Linked DNA regions of Homo sapiens. The protein of the gene in region 1 purifies or fractionates together with the protein of each later gene. This does not show direct contact. Each region holds a gene or a part of one and is shown in the gene's direction. Other genes may lie near its edges.

Region 1 (7,496 bases):
GGTACTTAATCTTTCTGAGTCTCAATTTTCATCTCTAGAATGAGGATAATAGTAATTTTCTTAGGGATGCTTTAAATGATTACATGAAATGGTCTGTGGAAAGCTGTTTAGTATATTGTTTGGCCTGTGGTAAGCACTCAGTAAATGTATAGCTGCTGTTGCTAGGATTAGTTTTATTCAGTATAAGCAAAAGAAATGACTAGTTTCCCTGAAGGGGTAGATTTTTTTTTTTTTAATAGTATTGTACCTTAAGTAGTAATTTAAAAAATTATTTCCTGTAAGAGAAGATATTGTTCTATAAATGAGATTAACCCACATTGATATTTTTAAACAACTTAATATTTTCTATAAAAAATAACAGGAGAAAGAGAAAGAGTTAGAAAGAGAACGAGAAAGAGACAAGAAAGATAAAGAAAAATTGGAATCTCGCTCCAAAGACAAGAAGGAAAAAGATGAGTGTACTCCGACAAGGAAGGAAAGGTATAACATTTCTCATATTTAATTGCATATACTGGTTTCAAGATTTGCAGTGGTGTTTTATAATACTTTCATCATTGATGCCCGCAAACTGGAAGTGTTTGTTCATGATAAACTTGTTTGGGTCCTGCTTGCAGAAGGCAGAAATAGCGGAGAAATGGGGCATTTAGTTGGCACTTGACTTAGTTAACCAGGGCATCATCCCTTCACATGGTTTATATGGTATCCTTAGCCTTAGTTCAGTGCAAGGATTCAATTACAGTATTAGATATCAAACCTGAGGTTTAAGTAACAAAACAACTTGCTAGATTTTCCTTGTTGCATCCAATTTAAGCATATTTTCCAGTATCTGTGCTGAGGCTGCTACTTGTAAACTTGAGTCTTAGTCTTATCTTGAAAGGAGGTTGTATACATAGGCCAAAGCTCACCTTAAGTCTTCATTCTAATCAAAAGCATTTCTCTTTCAGTTTTTATGTCTTACTCTCACGGTTCCTAAATCTCTGATTGAGTAAAGAAAATTGTTTCCCTTAACTGAACTGAGGTTTTCCTAATAAAAAGACCAAGCCATTGCAAATAAAAGTCTAGCTTAGTCACGCTACAGATAGTTACAAATAACAAGTTATGCCAATTGGTTAAAAGTCTGTCACTTTTTTGACTTTTATTACTATTTTGACATAGTTTTAGATTTATAGGAAAGTTGCAAGAATAGTATAATTGATAGTTACCCTTCACCCACATTACCCAAATGTTAAAGTATTTCTACTTTTGCTTTATTCTTCCTCTTCTGTCCCACCTCCAACCATTTAAGAATAATTTGCCAACATGATGCCCCATTCTCTTAACCACATTCAACATTTTAAAAAACTGATATTTAATCCAGAGACCTTAATTAGATTTTGCCAGTTGTTTCAATAACCTCTTATTGCAAAGAGAAAATCCAATTTAGTTGAATTCAGTTGTTGTCTCTTGACAACCTATCTTTAACACTTATTTGTTCTTGTTACAAAGGACTTTGAGTATTGTTAAAAGTAACATTACATGGTTAGAATAAAAGAGTAAGCTGGTAGCAATTAATAGCTAATTTAGTAAAGGAAAATGAATACCCGATCCTTTGCTCATTTATGGAATGTTTTGGGGGCTTTGTTCCATAGGAAGAGGCGACACAGTACATCCCCCAGCCCATCTCGCAGTAGCAGTGGTAGACGAGTGAAATCCCCATCACCAAAATCGGAGCGATCAGAGCGTTCAGAAAGATCTCATAAAGAGAGCTCACGGTCCAGGTCATCTCACAAAGATTCTCCTAGAGATGTTAGCAAAAAAGCCAAAAGGTAAATGCAAGTCATTTTTGCTAATATTTCAGATACCAGTTTCCTTGTCATTTCATCAGCTTTTGAAAATAATTTGGTTGGCATACATTTTTTTTTTTTTTTAAGGATTTTAGAAAACCAAAGAGATACACTTTCATTTTTGGTTATTCCTCCCCACCTCCTCATCCCAATCTCTTTCATGACTGAAGTGAAGGCTTCCAACAAGTGAGGACCAGCCAAGAATTTTAAACATCATATCCAATGTTTTCTGTGGAATAGGGTTAGCTGCTTTACTTTTCGTTCTGTTCTTTAGTTTCTATAGAATATTATTTGATTTTTGTCAAAGCTGAAAGAAACACACATTTTTCCCCCATAGCAATATTATTAGCAAGTTCTTGGGTAGATATTTTTGGAAATACATATCATGAATACCATTTTTTCAGTATGTATTTTAGTATTTTGTATACTTTTTTTTCCTTTAGTTCCAGAAAAATGGTTCAGAAATGTTTTATTTATCTGGTGATACATAGAGGAATTTTCCTGAGAGCTAAAACTGCTTTGTATGCTAATACTTTATTATTGTAACTATTTTTAGTAAAATCTTTACAGAATAGATACCTTTCTCCTTTTCTAAATGGCACCTGTATATATATGTATGTATGTGTTATATATGTATGTATATGTACATGTATCTTTATTGGTTTAAGTAATCCTTCATGAACAGCACTTACAAAATTATGTCTTAAATGATGCCCTTGAATGATACTGCAGTAGTTGTTTGCTTCAGGATGATAAACTTCAAAGCTGCTGTGTTTTTTAAATTTTGTGCATGATCTTAGGTGCAACTTTGAACTTTATCTTGTAGATTAAAGGTTCAAATTTGGGGGTTATCAGTCACTTATGGAGCTTGTTAAAAATGCAAATTCTTAGTTCCATCCTCCAGAGATTTTGATTCAGTAGAGCAGTGATAAGGCACAGAAATCTGTCTTTATAAACAAGCGCTCTACTGATGATCATTGATGCAGTGCATAGTAAGTACAAAATAATCTGTGTGTGTGTGTGTACAATAGAGTTTAAATTTTAGAAGTTCATAGTCTTATTGCAGTGATTTTTCACTGTGCCCTGTTAAAGATCATTTTCGATCGTTTAAGGATAAACAGTTTTGATCACATGAGTACTTTATCAATTGGGATTTTTTTGTTTGTTTCCTTAGATCACCATCTGGTTCAAGGACACCTAAAAGGTCTAGGCGATCACGGTCTAGATCTCCTAAAAAATCAGGAAAGAAGTCCAGATCCCAGTCCAGATCTCCACACAGGTCTCATAAAAAGTCAAAGAAAAACAAACACTGACGTAAATTTTTAAGATGCTGTCACTTATTGGAAATGCGATTTGTTTTGTGCCTGAACGGTCTGTTTTTTAAAAAAACAAAAAATCAAATGAAAGAGCATTCCTGGGGTTTTTTGTTTGTTTGTGTATGCATGTGTAAACTCATGAGCAACTGCATCTGTAGATCTGTCATTGTTTTATATTGTGTAAATTACTTTCATTGTGGCTATTTCTCAAGATGAAATTTTTATTGTTCTAATGGATTTCATCAGAAATGTGTATAATGGATCTGCTGACAGTAGTAGTATTTTGTTTTAGGATGTTGTGACTTAGCAAAAATAATACAGATGTCTTCCCCCCTTTTGTAGCTTTGACAATTTGAATTAGATTTCAAATAAAATCTGAACAGAAAACTATAATGTTGTTTTTTTGCCCCACCGGTGATATTAAGTCCCTTAAAGTCCTACTGAGTTTCACACTACTGTTGTGCTTCTTATACCTGATGCACTTTATAAGCCCCAGTGTTCAAGTAGCTTAAGTTTTATATTTACTAAGATGACTATCCAAATTAAGGGACCTGAGACTCCTATTTGGTGGTTTGCTAACCATTTGCTTTTGATAAGTTTCTCTTGGGTAATACTAATACCCAGATATCAAAGACTAGGTAGATATGGCATGGCGTTTTGTTAGTGGAATGCCTGGCTAAAACATTTTTTTCACAGAAGCAATATGATTTCCATACATCCAACCCATGTTCTGAGCAACTACTTACTTTTAGGGGGAAATTAAATATCTTTTCATTTCCTCTTCTATTATGAAAGAAGTTTATTTGTAAAACAAATTTTCTAACAAGGTTTGGCCATAGAATTCTCTTGTATGATCGTTGACCTTTTATAATCTTCTGTAGGCTATCTTTCAAACACTGGCATCAGAATATTTTTTATAAGTTTGTGTTTAAACAGCTTAGTTGGTCCCCCCCCACTCCCAAGAGACTTGGGTTTAGTTATAGCTTTAAGTAAAATTTAAAAATAAAATGTTTTTCAGGAAACTTCGTATCTAATGGTTTGTAAATTCAAGGTGCAAAAAGTTGATTTAAACCATTTGCAGAGTTGAACTCTATTATGAAAATAAATTTGCTACGGTATGAGGAAGAAATAAAACTTGTGTAATGTTGGTCATAATACTGCTATAAATATAATAAAGGGTTATGTAGAATTGAACTGACACTATTATTTGTGAATCTTGATTTCAGTTTTTTATGTAGGCACTTCATACACTGGTTTGATGGGTTTTTTTTTTCCTCCCTAAAAGAGAAAGTAGAAAACTATTCTAACAATGGATTATTTTGATTTAGCTTGCTTTTTAAAAAAATCTTTTCAACTTGTTTTACTTAATCTTGCCTAGTCACAAAATAAGATGTGCACCCATGGTTTGGAGAGTTCCTATATTAGCTGAGCAGTGAGATACACTATTTCCAAACGGTGCACACCTACAGTAGCTTTGGAAATGAGCCAATCACTGTTTTACTTAATGGTTCTTATCAGCATGCAAATATTGCTTGAAAGTTATTTCCTTATTCACTGTTTTGTTAGTCCATTTTGTTAGGAAACATTAATTCCTAAAAATTTGTTCAGAATAATTAAAAGTGAACATTTGGTGCTGATACTCAAAAACCTACAAATGTAGCCATTTAAAAAGTAACATGTTTTTCTCCCCTGCTCATTGCCTGGGAGAATGGAATTTTATATAACTACCTTTCTTTGCAAAAATAACGGTCGTGTCGAGTTGGTGGTGATTTTGGCATTCCATCTTGCACTGGTTTCTAGTATAGGCTTAGAAATAATTGGTCAGGTAATAATCTTTCCAGTCAAGTTGCAAGGGATGCTTATTTCTCTTCAAAAAAAGACATCCTGCGGGATTGAGTAGAAAATTTTAGGTCAGTTTTGGGTGCTTATTTGTAATATTTTTCCTACTACATTGGAGTTTAGCAGTTCTTTTTTTCTGGATCCAGATACAAGTGTCATGGTTTATCTTACAGTGGGTGAAACTGACTTTCTTTTGGTTGGGTGGGTGAGGATTTCTTAGGCCTGATAGAATATATATTCTGTGAAGTTTGTTAATGTACATATTAGATTGTATTGGATTTTTTTTTCTTGAATTGCAAATGGTATTATTAGATAGGTTATTTCCAGTTTTACTTCATGACAAATTACCTAGAGTAAACCTACTTAATACTCCCATGGATTCTATGAAAGTTTAATGGGATCAGAAATTGGTGACTTATAAGGGGGAAGATATTCTACCATATTTTTATAATAGCTTATTATTCATGTTTCTTGTCTGAAGGACACTCAAGTTACAGAGCAAAATTTCTATAGGTTGACTAGAATGTTCATAAGCATGGTCTTCCAGTTGCAGGAAAGATCATGTTCTATCTGTGGACACTTACTGTCCTCTACCACAGCTACGTGCCAGAGTTGTTTTCCACAGTTCTTATAAAGGGCATGACTTAGGCTCTTTACCCTCCAACTTAATGTTTATACACAGGGATTGTTTACTAGGTTAATGACATTTAACTCCCCTCTCTTCTGTAGGTGAGAGAAAATAAGTAAGTCTTGATCTGTTTCTTACCAAAGAGAGACAGACCTATGATGGAAAATGATCACGTCTCTGAATTTTTTCTTTAACGTTATAGTTCCTTATTACAGATAGTAAGCATATGGGAATTTCTGAGCTATAACATGTTGAGAAGTTAGAAATTAAAACTAACACAACAAAAGGCGCTGAATCAAAAGATCTTTGCTTTTATTTGGCTCAGAATGTTTTTGGCTTTTCTGCTAAAGATGGCAGAAATTACTCTACACAGACCTGATTTTTCTTTATTGCAGACCATTCTTGTGGGCTTACCCTGAGACTTTTATCCCAATTAGTGAATCTTGGAGGGAATACTTGCTTATTTATGACTTAGGTATTTCCCCCCAAACTTTAATATTCTTGAGCACTTGAAAATACTTTTGAGAAATTTTAACTGTGATTAAATTTAGGTTTATTAGAAATATTCTGTACACATTTGCCTCCATGGTGGCGTAAGTTCTGAAAAATTATATGACCGTGACAATAGTTTATCATCATCATTATTGTTATTCAAAATAAGGGTAAATAAATCTCTGTATTGCCAAAGTGACTTAAACTGTTCTGATGACCACACAGTGTGATTTCTTTAGCAGAGAAAGTTGGTTTTAAAAATAAATAGTACCACTTTTCTAAGACTGTACAGTTTACAAATAAGGTTTTTTTCTTTGTTGTTTTCCTCTTCTATTAAGTTTTAGTGAAAAGCCTAATTACAGAAAATTGTGCAGATACTAGTGAAGATACTAGTATAAGTTTAAAGGAACACGTGACTGTAAAATCTCACATTTACAAAGTGCTTGATCTCTTCATATTTCACACGCATGTTTTAGAATAGATTTTAGGGAGTGTTTAATTCATTATCCTTTTGACTTAAAATTTTTGTTACCAACTTCCTAGGACTTAGATAATATATAAATAAGTACAAATCCCAGGGGAAGTGTTGTGATGCTAGACTAAAAGGTGGGAATGTGCTGCTGTTCCGTGAGCCTTGTTCCATTGTTGAAAATTTGATGCCTCAGTGTTTATTCAGTACCACCTCATGGAGCTTCAATGTAAATGGATTATATGTATAATTGGTAATTTGTATAGTTTTGTAGATTGTAGATTAAATGCACTCATCATGTCACATGTAATTGTGCTTGGAGTATTTGTGTTTTATTCTTTTACTTCAACGGGTTCTTGTCTGTTACATCTCTGGTGATTTGAAATATCAGGAAAGACAGTTTGTCAGAAATGAGAATAATATAGTTGAAATCAGTTGGGCTAAAATATTCTACAGCAAGACAATTTCTTTTGGGTGAACTGATTCTATAATTTACTTACTTTTAATGTAAGGATTAGATTTATTGTTGAGCTGCTTTCCAGATCAGACTGTCACTTTATAGTTTTTCTACATAAAGATTATATAGTTGCAAACAAAGGTTGTGAAATTTCCCTTTTGTTGTTTTTGACTTTTAATTAATAAAAGTACATTGTTTTCATAGCAAACTTAGACTGTCCATGTAATTTTCTCCATATTGTTTTTCCGATGCAAGCCCAGTTAATAATTAGTTTTTTAGCAGCTTTCTCTCAAGTGAAATAAGTGATGTGACATGTTTATCAGTTATGGCTAAAATGTTACACTTTACATGTTTAAACTATAATCATATGTTTTCATGCTAGATGGTTCTCTTGGTTAGGAAAGTTCATTTCCTTATTGGTTTCCTTTTTTAAAAGTTATTTTATTCTGTTTAATTGAGGAAAATTTTAAAC
Region 2 (7,605 bases), on another chromosome or scaffold:
TAAGGCCAATAAAGGGTCTCTTGCATGCGCAGTACTTGGCAGTTCAATTTAGGTTCCAAGAAGGGACTGGATTACAATGTTGGTTTGGTCACATTTAGGCCTCAGTTTTCCTTAACTACAAAATGTAGGGGCTCAATTAGATAGTCTCTAACGGCTGTACCTTGGCTCTCTATACGGTATGGCAGGTGTCATGGTGATAATTCTCAACAGAAGGCAGAAGTGAAAGGCCAAAGGACAAGCAAAAGCAAGATTAATTCCTCACTGCTCTCCAGAGTGGACAGAAGTCAGTTAAAGATAACTCAAGGCTGGCAAAGGGAGGCCCAGCCCACTCCATACTCCTAAGCAGGAGAGGGAAATCTACAGGTCTAGGTTGGGCTGAGTAGGGCAAAAGCCTTTAGAAGATGGTGTCCAACCATAAGTAGCTCCCATGACCAGCTCCCATCATCCTCACTCTTGCGGAGTCGGGGGTCTAGAAACACCTGAGAAGCCTGAATGCATGCAGGCTTGCAAAGCTAAGGCGTGCTGGCGAGGAAGGAGAGCGTAGAGGGGGTGACAGGTGGGTAAGGGCCGAGGGAGTCAGGCTGGGAGGCAAACGTTGGGCGGTCGGATCTAGACACTGTGCGAAGAATCTGGGGGTGTTTCGCACGACCTGAGGAGAACTCCACGCGGGAGATGGTAATGATAAAGGAGGAGTTGAGCCGTGGGTTGTTTTGGAGACCCGCCGGTGGAAACGGTTTGGGGGCCTGAAACTGTTGTGCAGGTAACTGGGAGTGCCCTATACGTGGCAACGGTCGGGACATCAAGGGTTAGGGTATACTGGATTGGGGCCCGGGAGTTCTGTTGGGGGATGGGGCGCCCAAGGCACCAGGTAGGAACGGGTGGGGCGATTGGCAGTTTAAGGATTGGAAGGCCATTGGGAGATCCAGGGCTGGACTTGGGACCCGGTGAGCCTCACCGGAAATATCGTTCCTCTTCAGCCTGCTCTCTCTTTCCGAAGGCCCCACCGGCTTCCCGGATGGAGCCCGCGCCCCGGTCGACATTCTCGGACTGCAGAGAGACAGGGACACTGGTAAAGGTACGGAAGCAAAGATGGGATCCGCCCGCGGGGCTGGAGCAGCGGACACTGCCGCAGCGTACCTGATCCGAGCCGAAGCCTCGGGCTTGCATGGTCCTCACGCCCCACACGCCAAGCCACGTCCGCGCCGCCAACGCCGTCACTGCCATTGCTGCTGGAGCTGCACCTCTGGCGTCTCTGCCGCAGCAAGCAGTCTCTCGTTACGCGCTAATGGCAGGGACGGCCAAGCACCCAATCTGGTCGACGGAGGGGCGGATGAACACAGGAGTAGCGAATCACGGGAGAGCGGAGGCGGGCTTCCCGGAGCTCACAGCGAATCCCGAGCAAGAGACGGGTTTCTTCTTAGCCAACCGCTAGCAAGGGCTTAGGGCCAAAGGACTGGAAAGAGGAATGATGGAGGAGTTTAGAGAGCTGAGTGAGGAGAGTGCCAGAAGCCGAAATTTCGGCTCTTGGACCCATCAGAATGAGGCGTGGCGTCCACCTCCAGCCCACGATTTCAATTCTAAAGTCGTTATTATTCAAAGCCCAAAGGAAGTTTTCCCTTCCCTGGCCTGCTAGCATCAATAAAATGGGGGAATTCGGGGTTTGGGAGCTGTGTCCAGGATGCTGATGTCCAGGATACCGACGTCCAATGTGCCCTGGCTTAGATATACATAAATCGCGTTCATTTGTTATGAGAAGTGTCAGTGTTCTGGCTGGGCGCGGTGGCTCACGCCTGTAATCCCAACACTTTGGGAGGCCGAAGTGGGTGGATCACCTGAGGTCCGGAGTTCGAGACCAGCCTGGCCAACATGGGGAAACCCCGTCTCTACTAAAAATACAAAAATCAGCCGGGTGCGGTGGCACGCGACTGTAATCGCAGCTACTCAGGAGGCTGAGACAGGAGAATTGGCTTGAACCCGGGAGGCGGAGGTTGCAGTGAGCCGAGATTGCGCAACTGCACTCCAGCCTGGTGACAAAGCGAGACTCCGTCTCAAAACAAAAAAAAAAAAAAGAAAACCCAAATTATAACTTGACCACCTCAGGCACAGTTTCCTAGGACCTCTTGAGGCTGTGTTTCCCCAAGCTATGGTCACTCATCTTGGCTCAGAATAAACCTTTTAAAAATATTTTAGTTTGTTTTTTTCGTTAGCAACATATTGTTGAATGGGCTTAATAACTGCACTTTTGGCAATGTGGTGCAATGCAGTAGAAAAGAGCAGGCCAGGCGCGGTGGCTCACACCTGTAATCCCAGCACTTTGGGAGGCCGAGGCGGGCAGATCACCTGAGGTTGGGAATTCGAGACCAGCTTGACCAACATGGAGAAACCCCATCTCTACTAAAAAAAAAATATGAAAAATTAGCTGGGCATGGTGGCGCATATCTGTAATCCCAGCTACTCGGGAGGCTGAGGCAGGAGAATCGCTTGAACCTGAGAGGCAGGGGGTGCAGTGAGCTGAGATCACGCCATTGCACTCCAGCCTGGTCAACAAGAGAGAAACTGTCTCAAAAATAAATAAATAAAAATAAAAAATAAATTAGCTAGGCGTGGTGGCACATGCCTGTAATCCCAGCTACTTGGGAGGCTGAGGCAGGAGAATGCTTGAACCCGGGAGGCTGAGGTTGCGGTGAGCTGAGATCACGCCATTGCACTGCGGCCTGGGTAACAAGAGCGAAACTCTGTCTCAAAAAAAAAAAAAAAAAAAAAAAAAAAGGATAAGTAGGAGTCTAGGGAAAGCTTGACCTTAACCTCCCTTCATCCATCTAATGAATGTGAACAAGACAACAGTAGTCTTTACTCTCATGAAGTTTATAGCTCTTCTCTAACTCATTTTCTCTTCTCTGTTTCTTCTTTTTTAGATGAGAGAATTGGGCCAGATTATCTACCTGATTGATGATTATAAAAATACCTTCTTTGGGGCTGGGCGTGGTGTCTCACACCTGTAATCCCAGCACTTCGGGAGGCCGAGGCGCATGGATCATGAGGTCAGGAGTTCGAGATCAGCCTGACTAACTCCGTCTCTACTAAAAATACAAAAATCAGCCGGGCGTGGTGACATGCGCCTGTAATCTCAGCTACTCAGGAGGTTGAGGCAGGAGAATTGCTTGAACCTGGGAGGCGGCGGTTGCAGTGAGCCAAGATCATGCCACTGCACTCCAGCCTGGGCAACAGAGCAAGCCTCTGCCTCAAAAAAACAAAACAAAACAAAACCTTCTTTGTTTTCTATGAAATAGTAAAACTGGCTTTATTGATTATATTTTAGTTGAGAAAATAGCAGCCCTACCTGGTATTTTGTTTAATTCCATTTATGTGAAATACGTATTCACATATTGTTTAACTCCATTTATGTGAAATATCCAGAATAGGTAAATCCATATAGATAGAACACAGATTGCTTGTTTTCAGGGACTGGGGAGAGGGGGCGAATAGGGAGTAACTGCTTAATAGGTACTAGGTCTCCTCGGCCAGGCGCGGTGGCTCACGCCTGTAATCCCCGCACTTTGGGAGGCCAAGGCGAGCGGATTACGACGTCAGGAGATCGTAGACCATCCTGGCCAACATGGTGAACATCCGGCTTTACTAAAAATATAAAAATTAGCGGGGCATGGTGGCGTTTGTCTGTAATCTCAGCTACTCGGGAGGCTAAGGCAGAATTTCTGGAACCGGGGAGGCGCCACTGCACTCCAGCCTGGGTGACAGAGTGAGACTCCGTCTAAAAAAAAAAAGTAGATACTAAGTCTCCTTTTGAGGTGATGAAACTATTTTGGAACCAGGTAGACATGGTGGTTGCAGAACATTGTGAATGTTCTGAAGACAGCTGAGCCGGTCCGGCGCGGTGGCTCATGCCTGTAATTCCTGTACTTTGGGAGGCCTGGGCAACATGGCAAGACCCCGTCTCCACAAAAGTACATAAAATTAGCCGGGCATGGTGGCGCGCGCCTGCAGTCCCAGCTACTCGGGAGGCTGAAGTGAGAGGATCGCTTGAGCTTGGGAGGTCGAGGCTGCAGTGAGCTGTGATTGCACCACTCGACTCCAGCCTGGACGACAGAGATCCTGTCTCAAAAATAAATAAATAAATAAACCCACTGAATTATTCACTTTTTCTTTTATTCTTCTTATTATTTTTTACCTAACAATAACTTAAGCACATTATTTACTTTAAAGTGGTTAATTATATGTTATGTGTAATTCGTTTAAATTTTAAAAAGCCCACCTACTTTTAAAGTGCCTGGCTGGGCTGCGAGCCCTTTAAGAACCTCTCAGACGGGAGGCGGGGCTAGAGGAGCGGACCTGTAAGAATCACGTGAGGCGACGCCTGCGCAGAAGGGTCACGTGGTGGCTGGGCCGGGGAAATGGCGGCTTCAGGAGAGAGCGGGACTTCAGGCGGCGGAGGCAGCACCGAGGAAGCATTTATGACCTTCTACAGTGAGGTGAACACAGAGTGAGGAGTAGTGGCACCGGGGCGACCGCTCCCGGATCTGCTTTCCCAGTGGACAAAGGCAGTGGCCGCCTGGCCTGGACCGTTGGGCGATTCCTTCAGTCCAGTCTTCGGGGTGGCGGGGGTCTGGGGGTGTGTGAGCGTCTCCCACTGATAGCTGCTGGGAGATCCCCCGGGGCAACGAAAGAGGGAATGGTGTTCGATCTATCGAGGGAGGTGGCGAGTGTGTCCAACATAGTGCGGGCGCGCGGGCAGAGTGCCCCAAGTCCGCGGAGTCGGGGGCTGGCAGAGGCTGGGCCCTTCCTGGGAGTGACTTAGCCTTCTTGGCCCCCGAGACGTTTCTTAGTCCTTTGTAATGAGTTGTTTTAGTGGTTGTTTCTGCCATTCACGAACGCCAGGCACTGTGTATCATGCCAGTTAGGCATTATATTACCCCCATTTTACAGATGACGAACCTGAGCTTTAGGGAGGTGAAATAGTTTGGGGCCTTACAGTAGGTTACAGCTTGCTTGGTGGTATGTTAGGACAGCAGTGGGCTTGTTCTGAGCCTCCTTTACTATCGCATCTCCAGCGCATAGTATGTAGTGGATGCTCAGTAAATATTTGTTGAGTGAATGAATGAATAAATGAAATAAAAGCATGCCGTTTGGAGTCAGAATCTCAGATTAAATTATTGCAAGGGGCTGGGCACAGTGGCTCACATCTGTAATCCCAGCACTTTGGGAGGCCCAGGCGGGAGGAACCCAAAAGCTCGAGGCTGCAGTGACCTATGATCGGACCACTGCACTCCATTTTTGGCGAGAGTGAGACCCTGTCTCTTTAAAAAGAAGGAAAAAAAGGATAGAAAAAAAAATTCTTGGTTGGGCGCGGTGGCTCACGCCTGTAATCCCAGCACTTTGGGAGGCCGAGACGGGCGGATCACGAGGTCAGGAGATCGAGACCACGGTGAAACCCCGTCTCTACTAGAAATACAAAAAATTAGCTGGGCCTGGTAGTGGGCGCCTGTAGTCCCAGCCACTCGGGAGGCTGAGGCAGGAGAATGGCGTGAACCCGGGAGGCAGAGCTTGCAGTGAGCAGAGATCGCGCCACTGCACTCCAGCTTGGGTGACAGAGCGAGAGACTGTCTAAAAAAGAAAAAAATTCTTGGAAGACAGTTAACCTGACTGGACTGGGATTGAATTCTTTTTTTTTTTCCTAAGGCGGAGTTTTGCTCTTGTTGCCCAGGCCTGGAGTGCAGTGGCACGATCTTGGCCCACTGCAACCTCTGCCTCCCTGGTTCAAGTGATTCTCTCGCCTCAGCCTCCCGAGTAGCTGGGATTACAGGCGCCTGCCACCACGCCTGGCTAATTTTTGTATTTTTGGTAGAGACGGGGGTTTCACCATGTTGGCCAGACTGGTCTTGATCTCCTGACTTAAGGTCCTCCCGCCTCGGCCTCCCAAAGTTGCTGGGATTACAGGCTTGAGCCACCACGCCTGGCCGGGATTGAATTTGTTCAAGACATTAATTTTGCAGATCTTCATATTCCACATCTGTAAAAACAAGAGAGTTAATTTAATTTAATTTATTTATTTTGAGACAGAGCCTCACTCTTGCCCAAGCTGGAATGCACAACCTCTGCCTTCTGGGCTCAAGTGATTCTCCCACATCAGTAGCTGGGACTACAAGCTCAGGCCACCATGCCTGGCTGATTTTTGTATTTTTTTTGTTGTGACAGGGTCTTGTTGTGTTGCCCAGGCTGGTCTTAAACTCCTGGGCTCAAGCAATCCTCCCGTCTTGGCCTCCCAAAGTGTTGGGATTACAGGCATGAGCCACTGTGCTTGGCAAGAGAGTTAATTTTAAAATAAACATTTTCATGAGGACTAAAGTTATTGTATAAGAAAGCGTTTCATAAAAAAATAAAGCAGAAGCATCTTTCTCAGGGTTAAACAAGGCAGAAGATGGGACCTCTGTAGGGTGGCATGGGTTTGAGGAATGGAGTTGCCCCCCAGCAGGCTGTGAGCTATTCAGGGTTAAGGACCATATCACATCCATCTTTTATTTCTTGCAATTGTAACAGTACTTGTTACATAGTAGTTTCTCCAAAGTATTACATTTAGGTCTAGACACCTGGCAGGCACTGCCTGTAGTCTCAGCTGCCCGGAAGGCTGAGGCAAGAGGACTGGAGGATGACTTGAGCCCAGGAGGTGGAGGTTGCAGTGAGCCATGATCTGTCTTCTGTCACTGCAGTACACCCTGGGTGACAGAGCAAGACCCCTTCTCAAAAAACAAAAACAAACAAAAAACCAAATGGCAACCTTTGTTTGAATTGGATGGGAAAAAATATCTAAGGAAGGGTAATTCAGTCATTTTTTTAAAAAATAGAGACAAGGTCTTGCCATGTTGCTCAGGTTGGTCTTGAATTCCTGCACCCAAGTGATCCTCCTGCCTCAGACTCCCAAAGTGCTGGGATTACAGGCATAAGCCACCACACTGGCCTCATTCATTTAACAGATGTTTATTGAACATTGGAAATGTACTAGTTTGCTATTTAGGTGTTGAGGATACGGTAGTGAACAAGAGAGAAAAAAAATCCTGTTTTCATAGAGTGAAGAGGGAAGATGTCTAGAAGGAATGACTTTTTATGTTAATGAAATTCTTTCCAACCTTGTTTTGGCTATAGGAATAAAGATGGCATATAGCATACCAGAGATTCATTCCAACTAGCATTCCAACTCTGACAGTGACACCAAGAATGTTTTCCTGGGACTGCCTGGTGCTTGTTCTCCCTGGCATTGTCTTCAGGTCAGGGATTTTTCTTTTTTCTTTCTTTCTTTTTTTTAAATTAAAAATAGAGATGGGGTTTCGCCATGTTGCCCAGGCTTGTCTCAAACTCCTGAGCTCAAGCAATCCACCCACCTCAGCCTCCCAAAATGTTGGGATTACAGGTGACAGCTACTCCGCCTGGCCAAGTCAGGGATTTTTTCTAACACTATTAGAATTAGGTGGTGGAGTTGTTTGTTCCTTCCCATCAACAGTTTTAAATGCTGCTCATAGTTTATGTCTTACTGTGATTGTATTTTTCCTTTTTTTGCTCTTTAAATTTTTTTCTTTATTTTTTTTCCTCACAGAG
Region 3 (7,496 bases), on another chromosome or scaffold:
GCCCAGGTCAGAAATGGAGCAGGTCGAAACTCCTGTGCCGATCAGTAGTGGCCTCACGCCTGTAAATAGCCACTGCACTCCAGCCTGGGTGACATAGTAGAGAATCTATTTAATAAAAGAATGTGCTTGTATGAGGGAAGAGTTTGACCTGGAGTGTTAACTGCCAGGGGAAAAGTTTGGGTTTTTTCACTCAATCCAGGGGTTTTTCTGATGCCTATTTAGGTTTGAGATGCGGGGGTGGGGTGGAGAGAGATCAGCTGCCTGAAATCGTAAGCAAAATATTGTATGTGCTTATGTGTTTCTAGAGCGATCCTTCCTTAGCCCCAGCACACCAAGTTTAAAACCGTTGCTAGGCCGGGCGCGGTGGCTCACGCCTGTAATCCCAGCACTTTGGGAGGCCGAGGCGGGCGGATCACGAGGTCAGGAGATCGAGACCATCCTGGCTAACACGGTGAAACCCCGTCTCTACTAAAAATACAAAAAATTAGCCAGGCGTGGTAGCGGGCGCCTGTAGTCCCAGCTACTTGGGAGGCTGAGGCAGGAGAATGGCGTGAACCTGGGAGGCAGAGCTTGCAGTGAGCCGAGATCGCACCACTGCACTCCAGCCTGGGCGACAGAGCGAGACTCCGTCTCAAAAAAAAAAAAAAAAAAACCGTTTCTAAAGGCAGCGGGAAGCCACAAGAGTTTTAAACAAGGGAGAGGGTGGCTTGGGTTGTGTGGCCGGTGGTGTAGGACAAGCTACAGGGACCAGCCTGGGGAGCAGTGAGGCCTGCAGGGGAGCAAACAGGGCAGTTGTTTAGGTGAGAGATGGTGGGGTCTGAATTAAGTCAGTAGGTTGAGCCTGAGGGAGGGAGCATGGGGGGCAGGTGGGGTGAAGGGGTAGAATCCATGAACTTGGGCGCCAGTTGCATATTGACGACCTGATGGTGTAATGAGCAGGGGAGGAAGACACCTCAGACGGTGCTTTGGCTTGGGTGACTGAGCTAAGGGCTGCTTTCCCTTTCTGGGGCGGGGGGGTGGCCACTTGGAAGCTGGTGCCATTATGAGGAAGGAGAGGGTGCTTATGCTTATAGCCCAGGAAGATTGAAGCCAAGAAGTGCTTTCTTTTTTTTTTGGAGATGGAGTCTTGCTCTTGTTGCCCAGGCTGGAGTACAGTGGCAAGATCTTGGCTCACTGCAACCTCTGCCTCCCAGATTCAAGCGATTCTCCTGCCTCAGCCTCCCAAGTAGCTGGGACTACAGGCGTGCGCCACCACACCCAGCTAATTTTTGTATTTTTAGTAGAGATGTGGTTTCACCATGTTGGCCAGGATGGTCTTGATCTCTTGAACTCATGATCCGCCCACCTTGGCTTCCCAAAGTGCTGGGATTACAGGCGTGAGCCATCGTACCCAGCCAAGAAGTGCTTTCTGTGGGTGATGATATCTTGGCTAGATGTAAAGGGTGTGTTGGAGTTGGCCAGGTGAAAACAAGGGGAGAAAAGTGTTCCGGGCAGAGGAAGGAGCCCTTGGAGGGAATGGGGAACCCAGAGCTTAGGGTGGCTGAAGCCCAGAGTAGGAGGGGTTCTTGGAGTGGCCAGAGGTGGGGGTGCAGAATTGGGAGCCTGGCTTGGGGAGGAGTTGGAGGCCTGGCTTGGGGAGGAGTCGGGGACCTGGCTTGGAGAGGAGTGAGGAGTGTATCCTGGAAGCGTGGGAGAGACTCGTGGAAGGTTTAGGTCTGTGTTGTGAAGCTGGGTTAGCCACAGTACAGCCAGTTCTGCACCCCACGCCTTAAAGCCTGGGCCTCAACTGTTGTAGAATGGAGCTTCACGAACTCTGTGGTGAAGGACCATTTCTGGTGTTGTGTTTTAAGTTTCTAACCTGTTGTGTGTGGACCAAAACTTCTGCAAAGCACAGTAACAATGTGGACCGTGAACCATCACGCTGCTAGAAAGGTTTTGAAATGCTCCCTTTCTGGTTCCATAACCGTCTGTCACCGCTGGGTAGCCCAGGGACCACTCCATAAGTGGCAATACCATGACTGCCATGTCAAAAAGAGGTAGAGGGATGGGACCTGATGCAGGAAGACCGGTTCTGGGGTGACGCAGGTGACAGCAGATCCATGGTGGTGACAGCGGGGACATAGACTGATTGGAGTGATGTCTCGGAGGCCGCCTTGACACTATGTGGCTCGTCACTGGGAGGCACATGCTACTTCTGGCCTGGGTTTCTGGGCAGATGGTGGTGCCAACCATGGTGCGGGGAGCACAGGAGGGGACATAGGTGTAGGGGGTGAGAGGAAACACAGGCCCCTTGGAAACACAGTGGGCCGTGCAGTTGGTGGTTAGGGCCAAAGCTCAGGAATCCAGAATGGAGATGATGGATTTAGGAATCACACCATGCACAATCGCAGCCACAGGAATGAGTAGCTCATGTTGCCCGGCGGTTGCGTAGAGCGGAGGACAGGGCTCAGAACACAGGCCGCGCACCCCAGCATGTGAGGGTCCAACGGGAGAGGGGTTGGTAAAGGGGGAGAAAGGGACTGAGGGGGCGAACACATGGAGGCCAAGGGAGGCAAGCACCTGCGACAGGCCCGGGGGGCTGAGTTGAGTGAGGGTGTCCTCAGCTGCCTGGGGGAAGGAGGGGGGTGCGGGGAGTGGCAAGCAGGCACCAGGCTGAGATAAAGGGGAGGTGAAGATCTGGAGTGAGTCTTGTCTGAGAAATCGTTTAGAGAGGGATCATGGGGTAAAGGGAGAAGTTTCCAACCCAGAATATTCTGATGTGTTTATTTATTTCCTTTTTTATTTTTTGAGATGGAGTCTCACTCTGTCACCCACACTGGAGTGCAGTGGCGCCATCTCGGCTCACTGCAACCTCCACCTTGCAAGCTCAAGCAATTCTCCTGCCTCAGCCTCTCAGGTAGCTGGGATTACAGGTGCCCGCCACCACGCCCGACTAATTTTTTGCATTTTCAGTAGAGACAGGGCCATGTTGGCCAGGCTGGTCTCGAACTCCTGACCTCAGGTGATCACCCGCCTTGTCCTCCCAAAGTGCTGGGATTATAGGCGTGAGCCATCATGCCCAGCCCAATGTGTTTAGATGCTGCTGGGGAGGGACGGGTAAAGAGGGAGGAGTTGGAGAAATAAGAGATAGAAGAAATATCAATAAGCAGTGTCCCTCAGACAGTGGGAGGGGTGGGATTCAGTGCAGAAGTTGGGGGTCATCCTGTAGGGTGGCTTTGGGTGCACAAACTGGAGGGCACAGTCAGCCCCGAGACTTGACTTGAGCGCCCAGTGAGGGGCGACACCTTCCACCTGACACCCCACCTCCCTTATCTTTGGCTTTGTCCTGGTCCCCTTGGAGTGGGGCTCTGGAGGGCTCCAGGGGTACCTGGTCACATTTAGACCAGGCGGCCCCAAGACGGAGAGAGAGGCAGGTCATCTTGTCCAGGGCCTCCTTATGAGCCGGGTCCCTTCCTCAGAGACCTCACCACCTGCCCCATCTGGCCAGAGTTGGGACCTGCGCCCACCCTGACCCAGGCTTCTGCCGGCAGAATGGGTGTCTCACTGCTGCCTCAAACTGGATGCACCCCTGAATGCAGAGGGGTCTCTGTCCCCAAGGGCTGGAGAAGCAAGGAGAGTCAGTAGAAGGACAAGGCAGGTGTGGGGGAGGCCGCAGTGTGCGCTCGGGGGTGCGGCTTCGTGCCTTTCTGGCCAGATGTGCAGAGGCCCGGTGGCTGTGACATCTTAACAGTCAATGGGTAGCTTAAGTGGCAGAGGTCAGGGAGTGGCCGAGGAGGTCGGAGGATGAGAGGTACTGAGGCCTGGGTTCTGCATCAGGTGGGGCCTAGGTGGGTGAGGAGGTGGGCAGGCAAGCTTAGCTTGCACCGGAAGGACACTGCGCAAGGACTGGATGGTGCTGGCGAGAGAGCGGCCAGGGGACTTCCTAGGTTCTCCGAGGAGGGGACGGCCCGAAGATGGAATGCTGAGGCTGGGATCCTGTGAGAGGGAGGGCAGGACCCGAGACTAGGAGGAGCTGGTTTGCGTGGGCATGAGGCTATGAACAGGCCCTCGTGGATGGTGAGTCCCTGGGGAGGGGGAGGCCCCTGTGGCTGAGAGGTGGCCAAGGGGACACCTAGACCCCCATCTGCATTCTCATGGGGCACCCCTCCTCCTCTCCCTCCAGTCATCTGCAAGCAGCAGACCCCGGAGCTGGAGCCAGCCGCCACCATGCCACCCCTGCCACAGCCCCCGCTGGCCCCCGCCGCGCCCATCCCGCCGGCCCAGGGCGCGCCATCCATGGACGAGCTCATCCAGCAGAGCCAGTGGAACCTCCAGCAGCAGGAGCAGCACTTGCTGGCGCTCAGACAGGTATGGGCCCGCCGCCTCCTCGGCCAGACACCAGCAGCTCCCCTGTGCCTCTGTTTTTGCGTCTGCTCATCAGAATGAATAACAGGTGTCAGTGAGGACAGGGCCCCCCCTGCCACCCAGGGCTCGGTGCATGTCAGCCACTGTCACCCCCAGCCCTGATGCCAGACACAGAGGCTGCTTCTCATCTCAGTGAAGCCACTGGACGTGCGTGCACCCATCACCCTGGGGTGGACCCCCCTGAGTGGGACTGTGGGGCACGTATGCACCTTGAAGCTCCCTAATGGCTGTGGCCAGGCAGCCTCTGGTGCCTACCATTGGCCCCACCACACAGTAGCTAGGTCACCTGGAGCTGTTGGTTGGGGAAGGACCCTTTTTTTTTTTTAAGTCTTGTTCTGTCGCCCAGGCTGGAGTGCAGAGGCGTGATCTCAGCTCACTGCAGCCCCTACCTCCCGAGTTCAAACGATTCTCCTGCCTCAGCCTCTGGAGTAGCTGAGATTACAGGCATGCACCACCACACCCGGCTAATTTTTCTATTTGTAGTAGAGATGGAGTTTCACCAGGTTGGCCAGGCTGGTCTCAAATTCCTGACCTCAGGTGATCCACCTGGCCAGAAGGACCCTTTTGTCCTTCCTGGTCCAACAGTTTGATAACTTTCGCCAAATAGAATACAGGTGCATTGGCTGGGTGTGGTGGCTCACACCTGTAATCCCAGCACTTTGGGAGGCTGAGATGGGCAGATCATGAGGTCAGGAGTTCGAGGCTAGCCTGGTCAACATGATGAAACCCTGTCTCTATGAAAAATACAAAAATTAGCTGGGCGTGGTGGTGCACGCCTGTAATCCCAGCTACTTGGGAGGCTGAGGCAGGAGAATTGCTTCAACCTGGGAGGAAAAGGTTGCATGAGCTGAGATTGCACCACTGCACTCCAGCCTGGGTGACTGAGCAAGACTCAGTCTCAGAAAAAATAAATAAATAAAATACTACAAGTGCATTGCCAGAAAAATGAGAGGAATAGAATACCAAACCTCCAAAACACCAACCCCACGCTCAGTACTAGGTTCAGGGCATAAAATCACACTGTCATATTGCTCTCAGAAAATTCCAGCTGGGCACAGTGGCTCAGCCTATAATCCCAGCACTCTGGGAGGCCAAGGCAGGCGGATCACAGGGTCAGGAGTTTGAGACCAGCATGGCCAATATGGTGAAACCCTGTCTCTAGTAAAAAATACAAAAATTAGCTGGGTGCAGTGACAGGTGTCTGTAGTCCCAGCTACGCGGGAGACTGAGGCAGAATTGCTTGAACCCGGGAAGTGGCGGTTGCAGTGAGCTGAGATTATGCCATTGCACTTCAGCCTGGGCGACAGAGCGAGATTCCATCTCAAAAAAAAAAAAAAGAAAAGAAAAGAAAGTTCCAGAATGCTCACCCTCAGCTTCTGTTCATCATGGAGTGGGAGGCCTGCCTTGACCAGCCGTAACTGACCGCTGGTCCGCATGGCAGCTCTGTTTTTACCAGTCGCACTTTAACCGGTGTTTCCTCTTGAGGAATGAGATTGCCCCCTTCTTGCTTCACTAGAGGCCATGGGTGTATCCTCTTCTTCTATTGCCTGTCGTTCACACCATGCCTCATTTGTCTTTTTTTTTCTTTTCTTTTCTTTTTGTTGTTGTTGTTGTTGTTGTTTTGTTGTTGTTAGAGACAAGGTCTTGCTGTGTCACTCAGGCTGGAGTGCAGTGGTACAGTCACAGCTCACTGTTTAACTTTGAACTCCTGGGTTCCAGCAATCCTTCCGCCTCAGCCTCCCAAGTAGTTGGGAACACAGGCACACACTACCATGCTCAACTAATTTGTATTTTATTTTTTGTAGAGATGAGGTTTCGCTACGTTGCCCAGGTGGTCTGGAGCTCCTGGGCTCAAGCGATCCTCCCGCCTCAGCCTCCCAAAGTGCTGGGATTACAGGCATGAGCCACCGCGCCCCGCCTTTGTTTTTTGTTGAGTTGGTTTGCAGAGGTTGTTTGTTCCTCTGGGCTGCAGTGTTTTCCTTGGTTACCTGGAGGGCAGGTGTTGTCTCCTGGTATGTCCTGTCAGTGCCCTGCCCACTCCAGGAGGGACTGTCACAGATTCACGGCAGGCATGAGAGACAGAATCTCCTCCTGCTGGGGACAAGCAAGGGAGCTGATGGCCAGAGCAGCCCAGAGTCCGGGCATCGCCACCATGTCCCCACCCCGCCCCTGCTGAGCCAGGCCGGAGGGCTCAGGCTGCGGGTCCCTCCTCATGTGTTCTCGACCCCACCGACCCCCGCCCGCAGGAGCAAGTGACAGCGGCCGTGGCCCACGCGGTGGAGCAGCAGATGCAGAAGCTTCTGGAGGAGACCCAGCTAGACATGAACGAGTTTGACAACCTCCTGCAGCCCATCATCGACACGTGCACCAAGGACGCCATCTCGGTGAGGGGCCAGCACTTCCCAGAGCCCAGCTTTCCCTTGGTCCCTCCCTGAGGCAGGGCCTGTCGTAGCCAATCTGGGCTAAGGGCTGTTACAATGGGTGCCCTTCCCTCCCGCCTGGAGCTCCTGAGGCTGTGGGACCCTGTGCCCCCCACGCTCATGGTGTGTCCTTCCCTGAGCTGATGGTGACGCGCTCTCAGGGATGCAGTGGGTGCCTGGGGGAGCCGCGGCCCTGCTCACTCGTCATTGGCTCGGTTGTTGCAGGCCGGGAAGAACTGGATGTTCAGCAATGCCAAGTCCCCGCCGCACTGTGAGCTGATGGCCGGCCACCTCCGGAACCGCATCACGGCTGATGGGGCACACTTCGAGCTGCGGCTGCACCTCATCTACCTGATCAATGACGTGCTGCACCACTGGTGAGCGCCGCCACCCCGTGCCCAGAGCGCCACTTCCTCGCGCTCCTCCTCAACCCTCCTGGGTGGCCGCTTGCTCCGGTCGGTAGCTTGGCTTGGCCTGTCCCGAGACTAGGGGGCACTTGTCCGGGGACCCCGGGTGGGGGGTCTCTGTGAGCCACCAGGCTTCTGTCTCCAGGACTGCGAGGTCTAGGTGTCCTGTGCACCTTCGCTGCATGCCCTGTCCTCTCCCCTAGACCCCGGCCTCACCTGTCACATTGCTGTCTCCTGGGGGCCACTGTCCCCTGCACTCCTTCCT
Region 4 (7,496 bases), on another chromosome or scaffold:
TCCTTTTAGCCTCCAAGCCCTTGCCTCCAGCCCCTGCTCCAGATGAGTATCTTGTGTCCCCCATTACTGGGGAGAAGATCCCCGCCAGCAAAATGCAGGAACACATGCGCATTGGACTTCTTGACCCTCGCTGGCTGGAGCAGCGGGATCGCTCCATCCGTGAGAAGCAGAGCGATGATGAGGTGTACGCACCAGGTGAGGTGGGGGTTCCAGGAGAGCCCATGGTAGTCTCCGAATTACAGCCATCTTCTTCTAAGCAAACATAGAAAGCAACAATTGAGGTCAACAAAAGCTTTTGAGGAGAGTTGCACTCTATGATATTGCAAGAGAACTCCCCACTTTCCAGAAGAACTCCCCATAGAAATTCCCCAAAGGCAGACACTGAAGGAGATGCCATGTGCCTGTTGACATCCCAGAGCAAGCTCTGGCTTTAGCTGGAAGGGCTTCCTGTGGCTGTTTAGAAGGAGAGCATTGATGGCTGGAGTACCATGAGCTCTTTGGAATGGGGCAGGAACTGTGCCACAGGTGGGAGACTGGGCTTCTAGTTTTGACTCTGCCACTTACACCATGTGGCCCTTTCCACACAGTTGCCCTCTCTAACTCACCATCTTATTTATTTATGTGTTTTATTTATGAATGACGGAGTTTCACTCTGTCTCCCAGGCTGGAGTGCAGTGGCTCCATGTTGGCTACTGCAACTTCCGCCTCTCACGTTCAAGCAGTTCTTCTGCCTCAGCCTCCCAAGTAGCTGGGATTACAGGCACGCACCACCACACCCGGCTAATTTTTGTATTTTCAGTAGAGACGGGGTTTCGCTATGTTGGCCATGCTGGTCTCGAACTCCTGACCTCAGATGTGATCCTCCTGCCTTGGCCCCCCAAAGTGCTGGGATTACAAGCATGAGCCACTGTGCCTGGCCTACCGTTCTTTTCTAAGTCAGAGGGGTTGCCCAAGCACTGGGTTTATAGGCTTAGATCGGGCAGCTTTCCCCGAGCCCAGAGGACAAGAGTTGGGGCCCTGAGTCACCCTCATCCCATGGAACCAGCCTCCTCCCTGCACACCAGAAAAGCTGCTCTCTTGTCAGGACACCTGGTTTATTTTCTCTTTCTATCCTCTGCCTCTGTTTTGTGACTGTACAGGTCTGGATATTGAGAGCAGCTTGAAGCAGTTGGCTGAGCGGCGTACTGACATCTTCGGTGTAGAGGAAACAGCCATTGGTAAGAAGATCGGTGAGGAGGAGATCCAGAAGCCAGAGGAAAAGGTGCGGCTAAAGTGGAACCTAGTGCCTTCTCTGCCCCCCGTCTTCCATACTTGGTCTTAGTTCCAGAAGCATTGTGGCTTTGCTTTCACTTGCAGGTGACCTGGGATGGCCACTCAGGCAGCATGGCCCGGACCCAGCAGGCTGCCCAGGCCAACATCACCCTCCAGGAGCAGATTGAGGCCATTCACAAGGCCAAAGGCCTGGTGCCAGAGGATGACACTAAAGAGAAGATTGGCCCCAGCAAGCCCAATGAAATCCCTCAACAGCCACCGCCACCATCTTCAGCCACCAACATCCCCAGCTCGGCTCCACCCATCACTTCAGTGCCCCGACCACCCACAGTAAGCCAGCATCTACCCTGGAACTGACTTTTTTAGAGCTTCATTCTTGAGGTCGGACACTGTTGGCTGAGAAGTGCAGCTGCCTTTTAGTGGGGCCTGAGTGTTGGGTGGGTCAGTTTGAAAGAGAAAGAGCCCTTTAAATGCAAGTGGGAACCTCTCTCTTGATCTGTTTGTGGAGGAGGGTTGGAACAGGGAGGGAGGTAAGTGGCAAATATGAGAAACCAGTTGGCGTCAGAGAAGGGCTGCAGGGCTTATTGGGTCTTTGAGGACTGTTGGCTTGTCTCCAGGAGAGACTTAGTCGAGGTCTCGGCCTCTTTTTTTTTTTTTTTTGAGATGAAGTTTTGCTCTTGTCGCCCAGGCTGGAGTGCAATGGCATGATCTTGGCTCACCGCAACCTCCGCCTCCCGAGTTCAAGTGATTCTCGTGCCTCAGCCTCCCAAGTAGCTGGGATTACAGGGATGCGCCACCATGCCCAGCTAATTTTGTATTTTTAGTAGAGATGAGGTTTCTCCGTGTTGGTCAGGCTGGTCTCGAACTCCCGACCTCCGGTGATCTGCCTGCCTTAGCTTCCCAAAGTGCTGAGATTACAGGCATGAGCCACTGTGCCTGGCCAAGGTCTCAGCCTCTTTAGTGACTCTTTCAGTGTTTGCCAAAGTAGCAGGTCGAGTTTGACCCGCCAAGTCCCAAGTAGAGAGAGTGTCATCCTCGGGCTCTCAGCAGCTCAGTTCCTATTGGACGCCCAGTGTAGGCCACAGTTTCTCAGTCCCAGGGGGCCAGGACGTAGTTGTCTAACCTCCATCCTCAGAGCTGCAGGCAGCCAGTTGCCAACTGTGTGTGACCTTGGAGTCCAACTTTGGCTTCCTGTAATCTGTGGGTCTCTTTCCTGCACAGATGCCACCTCCAGTTCGTACTACAGTTGTCTCCGCAGTACCCGTCATGCCCCGGCCCCCAATGGCATCTGTGGTCCGGCTGCCCCCAGGCTCAGTGATCGCCCCCATGCCGCCCATCATCCACGCGCCCAGAATCAACGTGGTGCCCATGCCTCCCTCGGCCCCTCCTATTATGGCCCCCCGCCCACCCCCCATGATTGTGCCAACAGGTCAGTATCTCTTGCATCATTTTCCAGGCCATTAGTTCAGGGACCACGGGCCAAGTACTGTCAGCAGAGCAGTGGCTGATGCTAGTGCCAGCTGTTCCAGCAGGGTATCCAGCCCAGAGGAGAGCCCTGGCTTCCCATTGAAAGATCCGCAACCCTAGAGCTGGGAGCCACCGTTCCTGGTAGAAATGAGAGGCTGAAATGGTGTAGCCAGTGTCTGTGCATTCAGGGATCAGGTCCCCAACAGGCTCAGAGGCCTGAGAAATGCTTGTTGCTTGGCACTAGCTCCATCCATCAGTCCTGCCCCTCCTGCAGTCCTCTGCTGTCCAATCTGGGCAGCCTCCCAGGTCCCCTTGCCAGGGAACCTGCTGGCTGCCAGACTTAGCAGGGAACAGCACTTGACACCTCTGACTAGAGGAAACCTTTGCAACCTTCCCTCTCAACTTCTCATCAGCCCTGAGTCCTGGGCCCCTTCTGCCCTCTCATGGGGCTGCTTATTCTTGTCTTTGCAGCCTTTGTGCCTGCTCCACCTGTGGCACCTGTCCCAGCTCCAGCCCCAATGCCCCCTGTGCATCCCCCACCTCCCATGGAAGATGAGCCCACCTCCAAAAAACTGAAGACAGAGGACAGCCTCATGCCAGAGGAGGAGTTCCTGCGCAGAAACAAGGTATGTAATCCCAGAATGCTGCTGAAGTTTCTAGCTGGAGGGTTCAGTCCCGCCCCTGTCGTACACTTGCGAAACTGACCCTATTTCACTCCCAGTCTTGGCTTCTGGGGCCTAGGTCAGCTGTTGGAGGCATCTAAGGGCTTCTGAGCACACAGTGAATGTGGGGCCAACAATTGGAGGAGCAGAGAGCATTGGTGGTGATGGTGATGGTAGTGGTGGCAGAGGTGGTGACTGTGGTGGTCCCTCTGGTGTAGACTTACAGAGGCCAACAGGGAGACCCAGCAGCACGGGCAGCACAACTCACGTGTGAGAGGGACCCTAGACACCTGGAGGAAATTGTGTGTGGTGTTTTAAAATTTACTGTGGCCTTCCTCCCCAGCTCTAGCCCTTAGGAGGTCTGCCTGTTGGGTGGGATCCTGTTGGGGTCCTGGAATAAGGGGAGGTGGGGACCTTGTCACTGCTAATCACTAGGGAAGCTGTCAGGCTGCAGTAAGGAGACAGAAACAGCCCCGGCCTCTGCTCCCCCAATGTATTTGACCAAATTGTTTCGTTTTGTTTTTGCAACCTCTGCCTCCCGGGTTCAAGTGATTGTTATGCCTCAACCTCCGGAGTAGCTGGGATTACAGGTGTGCACCACACACCCAGCTAATTTTTGTATTTTTAGTATTTTAGTAGAGATGGGGTTTCGCCACGTTGGCCAGGCTTGTCTTGAACTCCTGGCCGTAAGTGATCCACCACGCTGGCCTCCCAAAGTGCTGGGATTACAGGTGTGAGCCACTGCACCCGCTCTGTTTGTTTTTTAATAATAGTTCCCATTTCTTAAACGCTTAAGTACCAGGATAGAGCTAAGCACTTTACAGACACTTCCCCTCAATACTCAAAACAGTCATGAACCCTGTCTGGTGGATAATGACATTGAGGCTCAGACAAACCTTGTTAGCTGGGAAGCTGAGTTGGGAATCCAGGTCTTCCGACCCTGCAGGTCATATTCTTTTCCCTTGGGGTGTGCAGAGTATTTTCACTAAAGTTCTTCAGTTTAGCTCCAGACTCACCAAGAGACAAGATAGAGATTGTTTTAAAGAAAAGAAACCTAATCTTGCAAAGGGGGGTGACTTGTACAACCTCACAAGGGGTTATCAGTGGTGAATCAGGCCAGAATCCAGGAGCCCAGATGCACAGGTGACATTGTCTGGACAGGCCTAGGGATAGCAGAGCATAGTTCTTGATTGGCTCCGAGCTCCCTAGGCATAATGACCACCTCCTGTTTTGTAGGGTCCAGTGTCCATCAAAGTCCAGGTGCCCAACATGCAGGATAAGACGGAATGGAAACTGAATGGGCAGGTGCTGGTCTTCACCCTCCCACTCACGGACCAGGTATGGGTACTGCCAGAAACTGGCATCAGGTGCATGGGAACCAAGCATTCAGGGGAAAGCTTCCTCTAGCTGGCCTTACCAAGGAGTTGAATGACCGCTGCTTGATCCCACAGGTCTCTGTCATTAAGGTGAAGATTCATGAAGCCACAGGCATGCCTGCAGGGAAACAGAAGCTACAGTATGAGGTGAGTCAGTTTGTCCACAGACCTGTCCCTTGGGTCCTGACACCTCTGCTTTCACAGAAGCTAAATCTGTCATGGAAGCTAAAAGGGGAGTGGAGTGATATCTGGGTGTGGCCATCTGAATCCATCCTAGAAGTCATGATGCTGGCTGGGAGTGTTGGGGCAGGTGTGCCCAACAATGCAAGGCTCTGGTGGGGTCACAGTAGAGTCTTGTGTGGGATCTGTAAGATTCTTTGCCTCAATGACTGGGCATAGAGATTTAGTGACAAGACTTAGGCATGCTCTGGTGGGTTCCTGATCCAGTGGTTGGGCCATCCCTGCCAGTATGACCTCAGGCAGCCTGACTTGGAGGTGATAGTCTAGCCCCGCCTGATGCCAGGTCACATGGAGGCATTAATGTTCTTCTTCTCTGAACTTGAACAAATCCCTGCTCTGGGCCTCAGTTATCTCTATCCATTGAGGCTGTTGGGCTAAGTGATCCCTAAAGGTCTTGTGATTTCAGAGTCAGAGCTCCATGGAGTTGGTGAGGGGCCAACTTTTTGGGGAGTTGAGCTTTTGAGTCAAATGTTGACAAAGGGGAGGAGCGTAATTGGTGGGAAGAAAGGAAACAGTGGGAGGAATGAGAGGCCTCCAGTCCCCAACACCCTACCTTCTCACAAGCTCCTGTATTTGCTAAGTCCAGAGCGCAAACAGACCAAGTGCACAGTTGTAAGGTTGCAGCGGTATCCCCAAGGCTGGGTTGCCCCATGCTAAGGCACGCTGTCTGTTTTCCAGGGTATCTTCATCAAAGATTCCAACTCACTGGCTTACTACAACATGGCCAATGGCGCAGTCATCCACCTGGCCCTCAAGGAGAGAGGCGGGAGGAAGAAGTAGACAAGAGGAACCTGCTGTCAAGTCCCTGCCATTTTGCCTCTCCTGTCTCCCACCCCCTGCCCCAGACCCAGGAGCCCCCCTGAGGCTTTGCCTTGCCTGCATATTTGTTTCGCTCTTACTCAGTTTGGGAATTCAAATTGTCCTGCAGAGGTTCATTCCCCTGACCCTTTCCCCACATTGGTAAGAGTAGCTGGGTTTTCTAAGCCACTCTCTGGAATCTCTTTGTGTTAGGGTCTCGATTTGAGGACATTCATTTCTTCAGCAGCCCATTAGCAACTGAGAGCCCAGGGATGTCCTACAGGATAGTTTCATAGTGACAGGTGGCACTTGGCTAATAGAATATGGCTGATATTGTCATTAATCATTTTGTACCTTGACATGGGTTGTCTAATAAAACTCGGACCCTTCTTGTGAAATCAGTTAAATAAGACTTGTCTCGGTCACCTGTGCCCTGTCCAGACTCGAGGCAGTGGTAACACTGCACAGTGCTATGTGGCTTCTCTTTGAGGATTTTTGGGTTTTGTAACTAAATTCTTGCTGCCCTCATACTTTTTATGTATTAGAATCATATTCGTATTGCCCTTTTAAAACATTGGGATCCTCCAAAGGCCTGCCCCATGTATTTAACAGTAATACAGGAAGCATGGCAGGCACCATGCAAACCAAGGATGGATGGTGCAGTCCCTGTGTCAGTGGGCGGTGGTTTCCTGCTGGCCTGGAATCACTCATCACCTGATTGATTGGCTCTGTGGTCCTGGGCAGGTGCCTCATAGGTGTGTGGATATGATGACGTTTCTTTAAAATGTATGTATTTAACAAATACTTAATTGTATTAAGGTCATGTACCAAGGATTTGATAAAGTTTAAATAATTTACTCTCTACTTTTATCCATTTTATCCATTTTAACTCATGTAATCCTCATGTGAGTATTCCTGTTTAACACTTGAGTAAACTGAGGCACAGAGAACATAAGTTGCATGCCATAGTCACACACTGTGAAAGTGAAAAGAGAATGTGTGCAAAACACGTCACAGTCCTGGTTTCTGAGTAAAGGCAGGCTGTTATCTTTAGAATCAAGCTATCACAGGGAGATAGGCAATGCTGTGGGTGTTGGAGGAAGGTGAGAGCCTGTTGCTAACAATTTCCTGGTTTTAAAGCTAAGGCTGATTTTATTGGGAAGATCTCACATGTGTGTGGCCCCTGAGAGTTCCCAGTGCCTTTTATTTGCAGTCCTTCCATTTGGACCTCCTAGCTGCCCCATCAGGTCATCTCCAGGGCTCAGAGGGGTGAGACCATTTCCCAAGGTCACAGAACCAGCTCTCTAGTCACCACCCTGCCTCTCCCTCTCACCCAGAGTCAGTACCAGTTTTATGGCTTTATTACAAACTGCTGGGTCCCTCCCATTTTCAACTTGATTGATGGGATGTCATCCCTTATCCTGTCTGACATTTGCCTCTGGCCTGGTTGCTAGAAGTTTGCCCCAGGGGCAAGAGTTGAAATTTGGCTTCCTGAGGTGGGCTTTGTGGTTTGCGTCCCTAAAGTGAGCCCACTACTGGTTGCTTGTCCATGGCCAACACCAGAAATCCCCTGAGCACTACCTGGGTCTCATTCCAAGAAGGAAGAGGGTCAGGAGACCTGGGGAGTCTCATATTCCAAGTTCTTCTTTCTTTCTGGGAGCAGTGGGCAGTTCATGGTGTT

What was found.
Region 2: the proteins of U2SURP (region 1) and DNAJC8 purify together in Homo sapiens (affinity purification with mass spectrometry; 2 studies listed by BioGRID and IntAct, with this or other methods). This does not show direct contact.
Region 3: the proteins of U2SURP (region 1) and CHERP purify together in Homo sapiens (affinity purification with mass spectrometry; 4 studies listed by BioGRID and IntAct, with this or other methods). This does not show direct contact.
Region 4: the proteins of U2SURP (region 1) and SF3A1 purify together in Homo sapiens (affinity purification with mass spectrometry; 4 studies listed by BioGRID and IntAct, with this or other methods). This does not show direct contact.

The regions. Positions count from the first base shown.
Region 1 is NC_000003.12:143,053,315-143,060,810, forward strand, and holds the end of U2SURP (U2 snRNP-associated SURP motif-containing protein), read left to right. Parts: intron 1-361; coding exon 362-480; intron 481-1,628; coding exon 1,629-1,805; intron 1,806-2,997; coding exon 2,998-3,136; 3' UTR 3,137-7,411; downstream 7,412-7,496.
Region 2 is NC_000001.11:28,229,803-28,237,407, reverse strand, and holds the start of DNAJC8 (dnaJ homolog subfamily C member 8), read left to right. Parts: upstream 1-4,378; 5' UTR 4,379-4,409; coding exon 4,410-4,487; intron 4,488-7,155; exon of another isoform or gene 7,156-7,277; intron 7,278-7,605. Other genes in the region: ATP5IF1 (ATPase inhibitor, mitochondrial isoform 1 precursor), read right to left, coding at 956-1,047, 1,138-1,224. UniProt on the Homo sapiens protein: Suppresses polyglutamine (polyQ) aggregation of ATXN3 in neuronal cells.
Region 3 is NC_000019.10:16,532,303-16,539,798, reverse strand, and holds part of CHERP (calcium homeostasis endoplasmic reticulum protein), read left to right. Parts: intron 1-4,162; coding exon 4,163-4,347; intron 4,348-6,650; coding exon 6,651-6,788; intron 6,789-7,049; coding exon 7,050-7,201; intron 7,202-7,496. UniProt on the Homo sapiens protein: Involved in calcium homeostasis, growth and proliferation.
Region 4 is NC_000022.11:30,332,895-30,340,390, reverse strand, and holds part of SF3A1 (splicing factor 3A subunit 1), read left to right. Parts: intron 1-9; coding exon 10-195; intron 196-1,139; coding exon 1,140-1,261; intron 1,262-1,356; coding exon 1,357-1,602; intron 1,603-2,493; coding exon 2,494-2,701; intron 2,702-3,210; coding exon 3,211-3,365; intron 3,366-4,637; coding exon 4,638-4,739; intron 4,740-4,852; coding exon 4,853-4,924; intron 4,925-5,695; coding exon 5,696-5,797; 3' UTR 5,798-7,496. UniProt on the Homo sapiens protein: Component of the 17S U2 SnRNP complex of the spliceosome, a large ribonucleoprotein complex that removes introns from transcribed pre-mRNAs.